Homo sapiens: one gene and its partners. The protein of the gene in region 1 purifies or fractionates together with the protein of each later gene. This does not show direct contact. Each region holds a gene or a part of one and is shown in the gene's direction. Other genes may lie near its edges.

What was found.
Region 2: the proteins of C17orf75 (region 1) and WDR11 purify together in Homo sapiens (affinity purification with mass spectrometry; 3 studies listed by BioGRID and IntAct, with this or other methods). This does not show direct contact.
Region 3: the proteins of C17orf75 (region 1) and FAM91A1 purify together in Homo sapiens (affinity purification with mass spectrometry; 3 studies listed by BioGRID and IntAct, with this or other methods). This does not show direct contact.

What each region holds. Positions count from the first base shown.
Region 1 is NC_000017.11:32,340,408-32,344,158, reverse strand, and holds the start of C17orf75 (protein Njmu-R1), read left to right. Parts: upstream 1-1,985; 5' UTR 1,986-2,019; coding exon 2,020-2,159; intron 2,160-2,205; exon of another isoform or gene 2,206-2,358; intron 2,359-2,874; coding exon 2,875-2,955; intron 2,956-3,751. UniProt on the Homo sapiens protein: As component of the WDR11 complex acts together with TBC1D23 to facilitate the golgin-mediated capture of vesicles generated using AP-1. May have a role in spermatogenesis.
Region 2 is NC_000010.11:120,849,701-120,853,451, forward strand, and holds the start of WDR11 (WD repeat-containing protein 11), read left to right. Parts: upstream 1-1,661; 5' UTR 1,662-1,720; coding exon 1,721-1,806; exon of another isoform or gene 1,807-1,827; intron 1,828-2,064; exon of another isoform or gene 2,065-2,301; intron 2,302-2,823; coding exon 2,824-2,935; intron 2,936-3,751. UniProt on the Homo sapiens protein: Involved in the Hedgehog (Hh) signaling pathway, is essential for normal ciliogenesis.
Region 3 is NC_000008.11:123,806,349-123,810,099, forward strand, and holds part of FAM91A1 (protein FAM91A1), read left to right. Parts: intron 1-1,923; coding exon 1,924-2,028; intron 2,029-2,544; coding exon 2,545-2,668; intron 2,669-3,751. UniProt on the Homo sapiens protein: As component of the WDR11 complex acts together with TBC1D23 to facilitate the golgin-mediated capture of vesicles generated using AP-1.

The sequences.
Region 1 (3,751 bases):
TTCCTGAGTGAGATTTGGCTTTCAGTCTGGGCAAATGAAGACCATTTTGCGGTTAAATGGGCTCTTTTTTCTCAATTCCTTGATATGGACCTGTGCTGGGGACTGGTCGGCTATTCAAGTACAATGCACCCAGTTTTGGTTCTGTGCCAGGATTAAACCCACGATATTTCACAATTTGTATATGAACCCCGATGAAGTGTTTCTAGGAGATGGCTGCCTTGTAACCTAGTTTTGCCAAATATCTACTATGAGTTTTTCTACCATCCTCATGACTGTGGTAACTCAACCTCTCCAGGAAGTTCTTCTGCTTAAAACTAAAATCAAGTATATCTCAAGAGACTACTGCCGATCTGAAATGCCTCTGTCATGTGTTGTCCGCAATCAGAATCCTCTTTTAAATGTAGTTGAAATGAGAGATAAGGAAACTGACAATGTTACTGAATGGGAGATAGAGGTGAGGATACCCATTGCGAATGAAGACATGGCAGTAACTTCTGCAATACAATCTTTTAAGAATCTGACTGCTATACTCACTTGTTCATCAAATGAGTACCTTTATTGCAAGAGAAGAAACTGTGCTATCCACTTTGATATGGAGAGGCAATTTGGAATCTCTGCCATAATTGCTTAGGACTGAGGATTTAATGTGCTATTTTGTGAAAATCTGAGAAGCAGGAAGGGGATTTAACGATCTCAACTGTTATCCATCTGAAAAACCTAACTTGTAATTTTAAATGAAATGGCAGGTTGCCTTCCACTATTCCTTTTTAAAAATAGGAACTGCCCCTGCTTTTAACTTTATGAAGTTTTATTTATGAATAAAGTTTGCACTACTAAAAATAAAAAAAAAAAACACAAAACACACGCATGCACACACACACGGTGGCTTAAAACAATGGAAATGTATTATTTCACAGTTCTGGAGGCTGGAAGTTGACATGGAGGTGCTGGTGGGGACATACTCTCTTGAAGCCTCTAGGGGAGAATCTGTTCCATGTCCTCTCCTAGCTTCTGGTGATGACCATCAATCCTTGACATTCCTTGGTTTGTAGATACATCACTCCAGTCTGCCTCCTCCTTCACGTGGCGCTATGGTTTGAGTGTTTGTCCACTCCCAAATTCATGTTGAAATGTAATTGCCATTGTAAGACTATTAAGAAGTGGGGCCTTTAAGAGCTAATTATAAATTGCCCAGTCTTTGGTATCCTTTTATAGCATCATAAAATGGACTGAGACAGAAAACTGGTACCAGAGAATGGGGTGTTGCAGAAACAAACACCTGAAAATGTGAATTGGTGTTAGAACTGGGTAATGGGCAGAGACTGGAAGGGTAGCTGGCATTACAGGCGTGAACCACCACACGTGGCTAATTTTTTTGTACTTTTAGTAGAGACACAGTTTCACCATGTTGCCCAGGCTGGTCTTGAACTTCTGACCTCAAGTGATCCGCCTGCGTCGGTCTCCCAAAGCACTGGAATTACAGGCGTGAGCCACCGTGCCCGGCCTTTTAGTTTTTACGTAGTCATTTTTTTAAACGTTTTCCTGTATGACTTCTAAGTGTTTTGTTATGTTTGGAAAGACCCTCTTCAAGAATTAACAAAATTATCCCATATTTTCACTTTAACAAAATTCATTTTAAATTCTTAACTTTTTGATCAAACGGGTGTCTGTGCGTGCTGGCACGCGCGCAAGGAGGCAGACGAGTAGCCTTATTCTTTTCCATGTGGCTAGGTAGTTGTGCCACCTTTATCACATAGAAAGTTTCCCAGATGTCTCAAAGGAAAATAAGTTCAAAATAAATGGTAAAAGCTTGTCAGTAAAGGCGAACTCAGTACGCCTGTCAGCCCCTGTGGGGAGAAGAGACTCCCTTTCCAGGCCAGTCCTTGCCTGCGAACCCGGGGAAACCAGCGGAACGCAGGTGTGCGAGGGCCGGGAGCCGGACGAGCCCTGATACCGACGGCTGCACGGGAGCAGGGGAGCGGTTTGGCGGAGACACAGGGCCGCTCAGAGGCCGCCGCAATGCTCCCCTCTTTGCAGGAGTCGATGGATGGAGATGAAAAGGAACTAGAGAGCAGCGAAGAGGGAGGCTCAGCCGAGGAGCGGAGACTCGAGCCGCCGTCCAGCAGCCACTACTGTCTTTACAGCTATCGCGGAAGCAGGTGCTGGCGCCCAGCTCGGCCTGCCAGCCCGCCCGCCCCTGCGGCCCCGCCCCCGGCCCGCCGCCCGGCCTTGCACCCCACCCCCGGCCCAGCGGCCCGGCCGCTCCTAAAAGCCATCTTCTCCTCTCCCAGCCAAGGTCTCTGGCCTGAAGGGCGCTCCTCGCCTCCCGCTGCTCTTCCTGGCCCCCGTCGTGGACTTGTATGCCTGGCCCAACCATGCCTGTGCCCTTCATCTGCCCCTATATCATCCCAGCCTCTTACTCTCGCGGCTGCCCTTTGTTTAGCGCAGTGCCCCGCATGCTCAATAATTTCAGTTCCCGTCCCCTCTCCTTTCTGTCATTATCTCCCCACTTCTCCCATTTCTGTCACACACACCCCCATCCCCACCCTCTGGTTTTCCTCTGTTCTTGATTCCTCTTTTTCCTCCTTCTGACTTTCCTGGAACCTTCTTGGCCTTGTCAAGTTTGGTTTTTAAAGGAGTTTCCTTGAACCTTCTGGGTATTTAGCCTTTCCTCCACCCGTTAAGTGGCCTGGAGAGAGAAGGGGCTCTTGTCAGCACTGCTGTATGGGTTTTCCTTGTCATGAGGATAGGCAGTGCACTTCCACCTTGCAGCATTTTTAGTTGACTCCTTGCCTTACCCTGCTTGCCAGGCCCCCATACTCCTCTTGGTTTAGAGCCCATAATTGATAGCACTATTGGTTTTGTGGCTTGTAGATTGGCACAGCAACGAGGGGACAGTGAGGACGGAAGCCCAAGTGGCACAAATGCAGAAACTCCCTCTGGTGATGATTTCAGGTAAAAAGAGCTTCAGCATAATTCATGCATGTGCTTTCATCTTCCCTGCATCTCTGGCCTGTACATGTCAGTGGATACTCTATTTCCACTGAGCTTTCCCTGAGTCAAACCGTCAATTCCTCCTATCCCCTAGGAACCTCATCCTGATTTCCTCATTGGCTGGTTCATTCAAGGCTGGGGCAAACAAATCCACATACTGATAGTGTGCTTGGTGATTAGCCAAAAAGAAATCCTTTTTTTTTCTTTTTCCTTTTAAATTGAGACAGGGTCTTGCTCTGCTGCCCAGGCTGGAGTGCAGTGGCATGACTTTGGCTCGCTGCAGCGTCAACCTCCCCGGCCTCAGGTGATCCTCTCACCTCAGCCTCCCCAGTAGCTGGGACTACTGACCACCACGCCTGGCTAATTTTTGTATTTCTGGTAGAGATGGGGTTTCACCATGTTGCCCAGGCTGGTCTTGAACTCCTGGACTCAAGTGATCCGCCCACTTCTGCCTCGCAAAGTGTTGGGATTACAGGCATGAGCCACCTTGCCCAGCCCTGAAAAATTTTTTTTTTTTTTTGAGACAGAGTCTCCCTCTGTTGCCCAGTCTGGAGTGCAGTGGTGCGATCTCAGCTCACTGCAAGCTCTGCCTCCCGGGTTCACGCCATTCTCCTGCCTCAGCCTCCCGAGTAGCTAGGACTACAGGCACCCACCACCACGCCCGGCTAATTTTTTTGTATTTTTTTTTAGTAGAGACGGGGTTTCACTGTGTTAGCCAGGATGATCTCTATCTCTTGACCTTGTGGTCCACCTGCCT
Region 2 (3,751 bases), on another chromosome or scaffold:
AAACTGCCACTCTAAACTCTTGAAGTAAATAAATAATCTTTGCTGGCAGGACTATGCTGAATCTCCTTAGGCACTCTCTAATCAGATGTCCTATGTCCTCCCAATTCTTAGACCTTTTATACCTGTTTTTCTCCTTCTCTTATTCCATTTAGTTTCTCAATTCATCCAAAACCGTATCCAGGCCGTCACCAATCATTCTATACGACAAATGTTTCTTCTTACATCCCCACAATATCACCCCTTACCACAAGACCTCCCTTCAGCTTAATCTCTCCCACTGTAGGTTCCCACGCCACCCCTAATCCCACTTGAAGCAGCCCTGAGAAACATCACCCATTCTCTCTCCATACCACCCCCCAAAAATTTTCGCCGCCTCAACACTTCAACACTATTTTGTTTTGTCTTATTAATATAAGAAGGCAGGAATGTCACGCCTCTGAGCCCAGGCCAGGCCATCGCATCCCGTGACTTGCATGTATACATCCAGATGGCCTAAAGTAACTGAAGATCCACAAAAGAAGTACAAACAGCCTTAACTGATGACATTCAACCACTGTGATTTGTTCCTGCCCCACCCTAACTGATCAATGTACTTTGTAATCTCCCCCACCCTTAAGAAGGTTCTTTGTAATTCTCCCCACCCTTGAGAATGTACTTTGTGAGATCCACCCCTGCCCACCAGAGAACAACCCCCTTTGACTAATTTTCCATTACCTTCCCAAATCCTATAAAACAGCCCCACCCCTATCTCCCTTCGCTGACTCTTTTCGGACTTAGCCCACCTGCACCCATGTGAAATAAACAGCTTTATTGCTCACATAAAGCCTGTTTGGTGGTCTCTTCACACGGACGCGCATGAAACTAACAATGTATTGGGGAGAGAAACACACATCTGCAAATATCATTGCTGAAAAGAAATCATTGCATTAAGTGCTATAGTTAAAGCGTATAAACCCAACACTGAACACAAAGGAGGGAAGGACTGGGTCTGACCTGGAGAGCAGCAGAGGAGAAAGTGCGAAATGAAAGGTACCCAGCAACAGACAAAGGGTCACACTTGGCCCCAGACATAGTGCTTCTTCCTCAAGTGCGAAGGGAGTATTGCAAACACCAGATATGCAGTGTTATCTGTATTTGGAAATTGTTTATATTCAGGCCATTCACTTCATTCAGTCTGGCAATTTCATTCAATTAATCTCATTCATTTCTTAATTAATCTCATTCATTATTCTCTGTAAACTCCACGAGAGCGGAGACTTTGTGTCTTCTTCATCGGTAGATCCCCCATGCCTACTGGCACTAGTAGTTGCCCTAAATTCACTTATCAAAGGCAGCAAGAATAACTGGGACTCTTCTCTCTTGCTTTTCACGATTTCCAGCAGGGCACAAAGGCCTACAGTCCCCACCTGAAAAAAACAGACTTGACTGGAGGCAGCGCCTCTTCTTCCAAATACAGCCCCAGCTGACGCAGATTAGCACAACCGCCTAAGCGGCGGAACTCTGGAGAGTGCGGAACCTAGGATCCTAGGAAACTGAAGGCAACGGAACCTGGGGGCGATGGAATCCGGGAGCGGTGGAACCCGGAGCCTGTAGAACTTGAATCTAGAGGAACCTGACAGCGGCGCCGAGGGGGCCACCCGGACTCTGTTTGGAACGGAAGCACAGTGTCCGCCGCTTCCTGGTTGCGGGTCAGCGCCCAGGTCCTGGGCTGGCCGCCGGGATGTTGCCCTACACAGTGAACTTCAAGGTGTCGGCGCGCACCCTCACGGGGGCCCTCAACGCCCACAACAAGGCGGCGGTGGACTGGTGAGGACGCCGAGCTTCCAGGTCGCCAGGATCGGCCAGGAATGTGTGAGGGGGAAGGGGGAAGGACAAGAGGTTTCACCCCCTGGTTAGTTTGGCCTCGCTAAGGCAGGGAGCCGCCCTCACGCAATGAGCTTGCTTTCAGTTGGTGGATTTTTGTTGTTACAAAAGTGATAATAGCCCCGTGTGGGAAATTCCCCCATGCAAATACATTTCCCCTCTTTCTCGCGTATTTCTCTGCTGTTTTCTCTGCACCTCGCCCTTTTGCCGTTCCATTCCTCTCTCTTTTCCTCTCCTCCAGCTTCCAGGCTTCTCTCTCTCCACCATTAATTCCCTGTGCACTTTCTCTTTCCCATCCTGTCTTTTCTTTTTCGTTGTCTTGTATTCCTGTTGTCTTTCAACAATGTGCCAGACCCTGTGCTAGGCGCCTGTTCTTTCACCTGTCCTTTTCACCTCTTTTCGGGCTCCTCCTGTGTAGAACATTCCTGCCTTCAACAGGTCGTCTTTATTACTCTCTCCTTTCACTATAAATTACTACTGCAGCTCTGAAAACTACTCATTAGACAAATGTAAAGCAAAATTCTGTGGCTGTGGGATGTTGTTAGGAGGACTGAAACGTCTTGTGCAGTGTTTGTCGTTTTATTTAGTTGGAAGGACTAGGATTAGTCGCAGTATCCCCAGGCACATTGTGGATACTAAGGATTAGAAATCGGATAAGCGAAAGACGTATGCCTACAAGAACAGTCAGAGGGCACAAGTTCCTTTTTATGTCCTCGGGTCTCTATTTTCATATCTTTTAGAACTTTTTTTATCCGAATGAAAAGTGAATTTCAACAAGCATTTTAAGCTTAGCCAGATCTTTTATTTAAGTGGGATAATGATAAATACTGGCCTTTGGGTTTAAATGATTTTATTAATGGTGGTACATATGAATTAGACTTATCATTTATTTAGGCTTGGCAAGAAAGAAGTCGTCCTGCTTTGTTCTGTACTTAAACTTTAACATTACTGTTTTGCTAGGGGCTGGCAAGGTTTAATTGCTTATGGATGTCATTCACTTGTGGTAGTGATTGATTCCATTACTGCCCAAACTCTTCAAGTTTTAGAAAAGCATAAAGCTGATGTTGTAAAGGTAAGTAAAATCCCACTTTGACGCTAACATGTTGTCTAGTCTAAAGTTTAATACTGTGTATCACTAAGCTCTCATTAAGTCTTACGTGTAAGTGTTGAATAGCTTTTAAATATAACAACCTATTTGGGGTAGCCTAGAATTTTCATATATATGACTTAATGTCAATACAGGGTGAGTTATTAAATGCTAGTTGTTAGATCATTTTAAGGCAGATGAAAGTTCTACCATTTACAAGACCACTCAGTCATTCCTTAGTTTTGAGCACTTACCATATGCTATGGATATGGAGATGAAAGCCCTCAGATAATTCTCCATCTTATAAGGAAGACTCACAGCGTGATAGTGTGATAAGTGAGACTTGCGTAACACGCTGTGAGAAAACAGAGGAGCTGCATATTGCCTGGTTGTGAGGAGAGTCACAGAAGTCTACAGTTTCAAGACTAGTAGACAGTAGTTAGCCAAGTAAAAAATTGACAAGGAGCATTGCAGGGAAAAGCAAGAATATACACAGAAGTAAGTAGCGTGCCATAAAGATGGCTAAAGATGGGACACTTGTAGGAGTGATGAAATAAGAGGCAGCCAGAGAGATTCAGCTGTCTGTCCTGAAGTTTTGTAAGATTACGAAGGAGTTTGGATTTTTTTTTTTTTTAGACAGAATCTCACTCTGTCGCCCAGGCTGGAGTGCAGTGGCATGATCTCGGCTCACTGTAAGCTCCACATCCTGGGTTCACGCCATTCTCCTGCCTCAGCCTCCTGAGTAGCTGGGACTACAGGCACCCACCACCATGCCCAGCTAATTTTTTGTATTTTTAGTAG
Region 3 (3,751 bases), on another chromosome or scaffold:
TTTCACTGAAGCACGAGGAAATATTTTGGAACATCATTTGGACAAATGTCAGTTGTTCAAATGAAGAAAATAGGATTGGGGTACAGAATGGTTTGGGACTTTTGGGTGCTCTACTGTCATATCTGTGTTTATTAGGCTTTATTAGGTTAGCTTTATAGGGTGATGGTTTCAAAACTCAAGTCTCTTTATACAAGTGTTTCCAAAATTGACTTAATAGTTTTTCCCTTTCAACTTTTTCTGTCAAAAGGTACCATTGTCTTAATTATCTAGGTCTAAAATCTTACCTTTGTCTCATTCTTTCCTTTTTCCACTATGTTCAGTTAGTTTCCAAGTTCTGTGAATTAGGCTTTAGATAAGTCTCTCATGTCCATTTCTTCCCCTTTCTCTTCATTTTAAATTCTCTGTGACTGCTCTTCTTGTCTGGGTCTTGAACTTTAAACCTTAAACATGTGCTGTTGCAACCATTCCCTGCTTAGCCTTTCTGGCCTCTCCTTTCTATCTCCAGTCTGTCCTACATATTGACAATAGCTAATTTTCCTTAGATATCACTTACTTTTTTTTTTTTTAATTTGAAAATCCATTTTCAAATCACCTTCTCATGCTTACTAGTTGTTTCTGCTCTGGCATAATATTGGCATATATGTGGTTTGGGTTGCCGTGGTGCCAGTTCTTATCCATTGACTCTGGGAGATCTTTCATTATCTCCCATTGATTGACAGTATTCCATGAGCCTCTTAGTTTGAAATTCTGAGGAAATGTGATTGATTACTTGCCATCCAGTAGATTGGGTTGGCTCCCATTGAGATAGGTACTTACTCCTATCTCATTTGTCTTTGGCCAAATAGTTGACTGCCAAATATTGCAGGAGCATTTTCTAGAGAAGAGGGCTATGACTTAAGCAGTCATTTCAAAGCGTATCTACTACAGCTCTCCTTTTTTATGTCATTCATTCCACAAACATTTATGGAATACCTGCTTAGGTGCTGGAGCAATTTAATAAGACCAGGCCAGGCATGGCCAGGTACAGGCTCATGCCTGTAATTCCAGTCCTCTGGGAGGCTAAAGCAGGAGTATTGCTTGAGGCTAGCAGTTTGAGACCAGTCCGGGCAATAGAGCAAGACCCTGTCTCTACAAAAAAAAAAAAAAAAAAAAAAGAAACAAAAAAGACAATGTTGTTCCAAGGATGAAAACCCTAGAGAGGAGACGAGTGAGTCAGTATACAGTGTGGTGTTATTGACTATGATGGGGTCTGCATAAAGCGCTAACACAGCACAGAGAAGGCCTCTTAGAGAAGGTGAAGTTTGAGTTTTGAAAATTGAAGAGTTAGGTAGACAAAAGATAATGTGTTTTTGGAGGGTGGCAGCCTTTCAGGCAGAGGGGAATTAGAAAACAGTAGTTCATTGTGGCCAAAAGAAAGGATTTGTTGGACAGTAGTAGAAGATGAGAGTAGAGAAGTAGATAAGGTCTAAGGGATCTTGGAGGATCTTCTGTGCTGAAAGATAATGAGTCAGAAAAGAACTTTGAAGAGTAATAACATAATCAGACTATATATTTCCACAGGGGTGCAATTGGCTTCAGTAACTTGGGTCCTCCTTTTTGAATTTTGTTTCTTTAGGTCAGGGTTTCTCAATCTCAGCACTATGTGCAGTTTGAGCTGGCTAATTCTTTTCTGTGGAGGATTGTCCTGTGTATGGTCAGATGTTTAGCATTCATAGATACGAATAGCATCCCTGTCTTCATTCGTGTCCCTTGGGGATCAAAATTGCTCCCCTGTTTAAAACCACTTATTTAAGCCAAGGATTATGCATTTTCTTTCTGTCATCATTACTATTGTCTGAAGTCTTTTCCATGTTAGGACTGATTTATTGGCAGCTTCTGCTAACTGCTAGAATCCTAATATTGTGTATGCCCTTTAATTATAAGGAGAACCTGATTTGGCTTCTGGCTCAGATGTAAATGGGAGTACAGAGTCATTTGAAATGGTCATTGAGGAAGCAACTATAGATTCAGCAACAAAGCAAACCTCTGGTATGGTGCTAAAACTTTTTCCAATTTTATTAGACTAATTTCTGAGGTTTAACTTTTATGTTAAGGCATTTGCATGCCATTTGTCTATTCTTATTATTCATACGACTTTTAAATAAGAGTTTTCTAGGAAGCCTTTTTACATACTTAGAAAAATAATTCAAGTATTATAAAATTATGACTTGAAAATAATCTTATTCCTGTGGTAAATGTTTTGATTCATTCTCTCATCTTACAGATATCTTGCAATACTCTTTTTTGGGCAAATGACTACTTTGAACATTGGATGAAAGCTATGTACCTTCTCAGACACATGTTTATACCCTAAAAATGCCTATCCTGTTTAGAGATTAACTGACCCCCTTCAATTTCTTCCTCCCCTGCCAAGCCCACTGGTGGATATCAGTGGGGCAGGAGGAATCTATGAACTTCAGGTTAAGAAACCCTTGTCAGTTATATATAATATATACATAAGTAGATATATATGATAAAAAAATAAGTTTATGTATCCTTTCTTAGGTGCCACAACAGAAGCAGATTGGGTTCCTCTCGAGCTGTGCTTTGGAATTCCACTGTTCAGTTCCGAATTAAACCGGAAAGTTTGTAGGAAAATTGCTGCACATGGCCTTTGCAGAAAAGAGAGGTGAGGGTTTATATTCGCTGTCATATTTTCATATCAATTTTTAAGCTGTCAGCAAATAGTTACCATATCTTACTTTTATTCCACACATGAGCACAGTAATTGTTCTGTATATATTTGTTGATTGAATAGAGATCGCTAGTTTAAGGGTTTTGCTGTATTTTTCAAAATTAAATTTCACTAGATCAGAAATTAGTCACAGGCAAACATTTTGGGCACATGTTTTGATTATATTTATTTAGTAATCTAGGTGAGGTGAGGGTGTGGTGAAATGGGCATGCTGATATGGAGTATGAACCTAGATTTTAAAAAATGTATGTCTACAGAAAATTTCTCTGCATTTCTCTCACTCCTAACATACACACACTCATGTTATATTCTGTTAATAGTGATTGGTTTTTGTGGTGGAATTATGATGACTTTGCAAAATTTTCTTCACTTTCTACATTTTCTAAAATGGATATGTATTACTCCTTAAAGATGACATGTAGGTTTTATCTTATATACCAGCTCTGATCCATTGTGAGTAGCTGCTAAGAGGCAATGTTGTAAAGGTTCTGAGACAAACTGGGTTAGCAGGAAAGAGTATAATTGAATCTAATTGTCATGATAGGTGGCTTGGAGAGGTGAAATCCACAAGTCAAGATCTTCTTATTTTAGAAAATGAAGTTGGACAATAATTCATTTAAATGGTGTAATGTAGCTTTTATCAGAAAATGAAGAGTACTCAGTTGACAATTTCAACATCTATTCTCTAAAAACAAAGTAATATACATGAGTAAAAAATAGAAATACTATAGAACTTTAAAGATTACCACTATAATTTTTACTGACTTACATATTTGAAAAATATTTAGGTAGGTTGGTGTGTGTTTAATCTGTTATCAGGTTGTCTTTTGCAATTACTTTGGTTGTTTAAAGGTTGTGTCATAGTTGTCATTCCTCAGAGTGCCTAAATCTTCATTTGAAAAGTTTTCTTTCATTTAACATTTATGTTTATAGTAGTTGAATTTTTTTAAAACAATAACTTTGATTTTAGTTACACGATGTATTTTATTTCAAAATGGACTTTTAATGCATGACTAC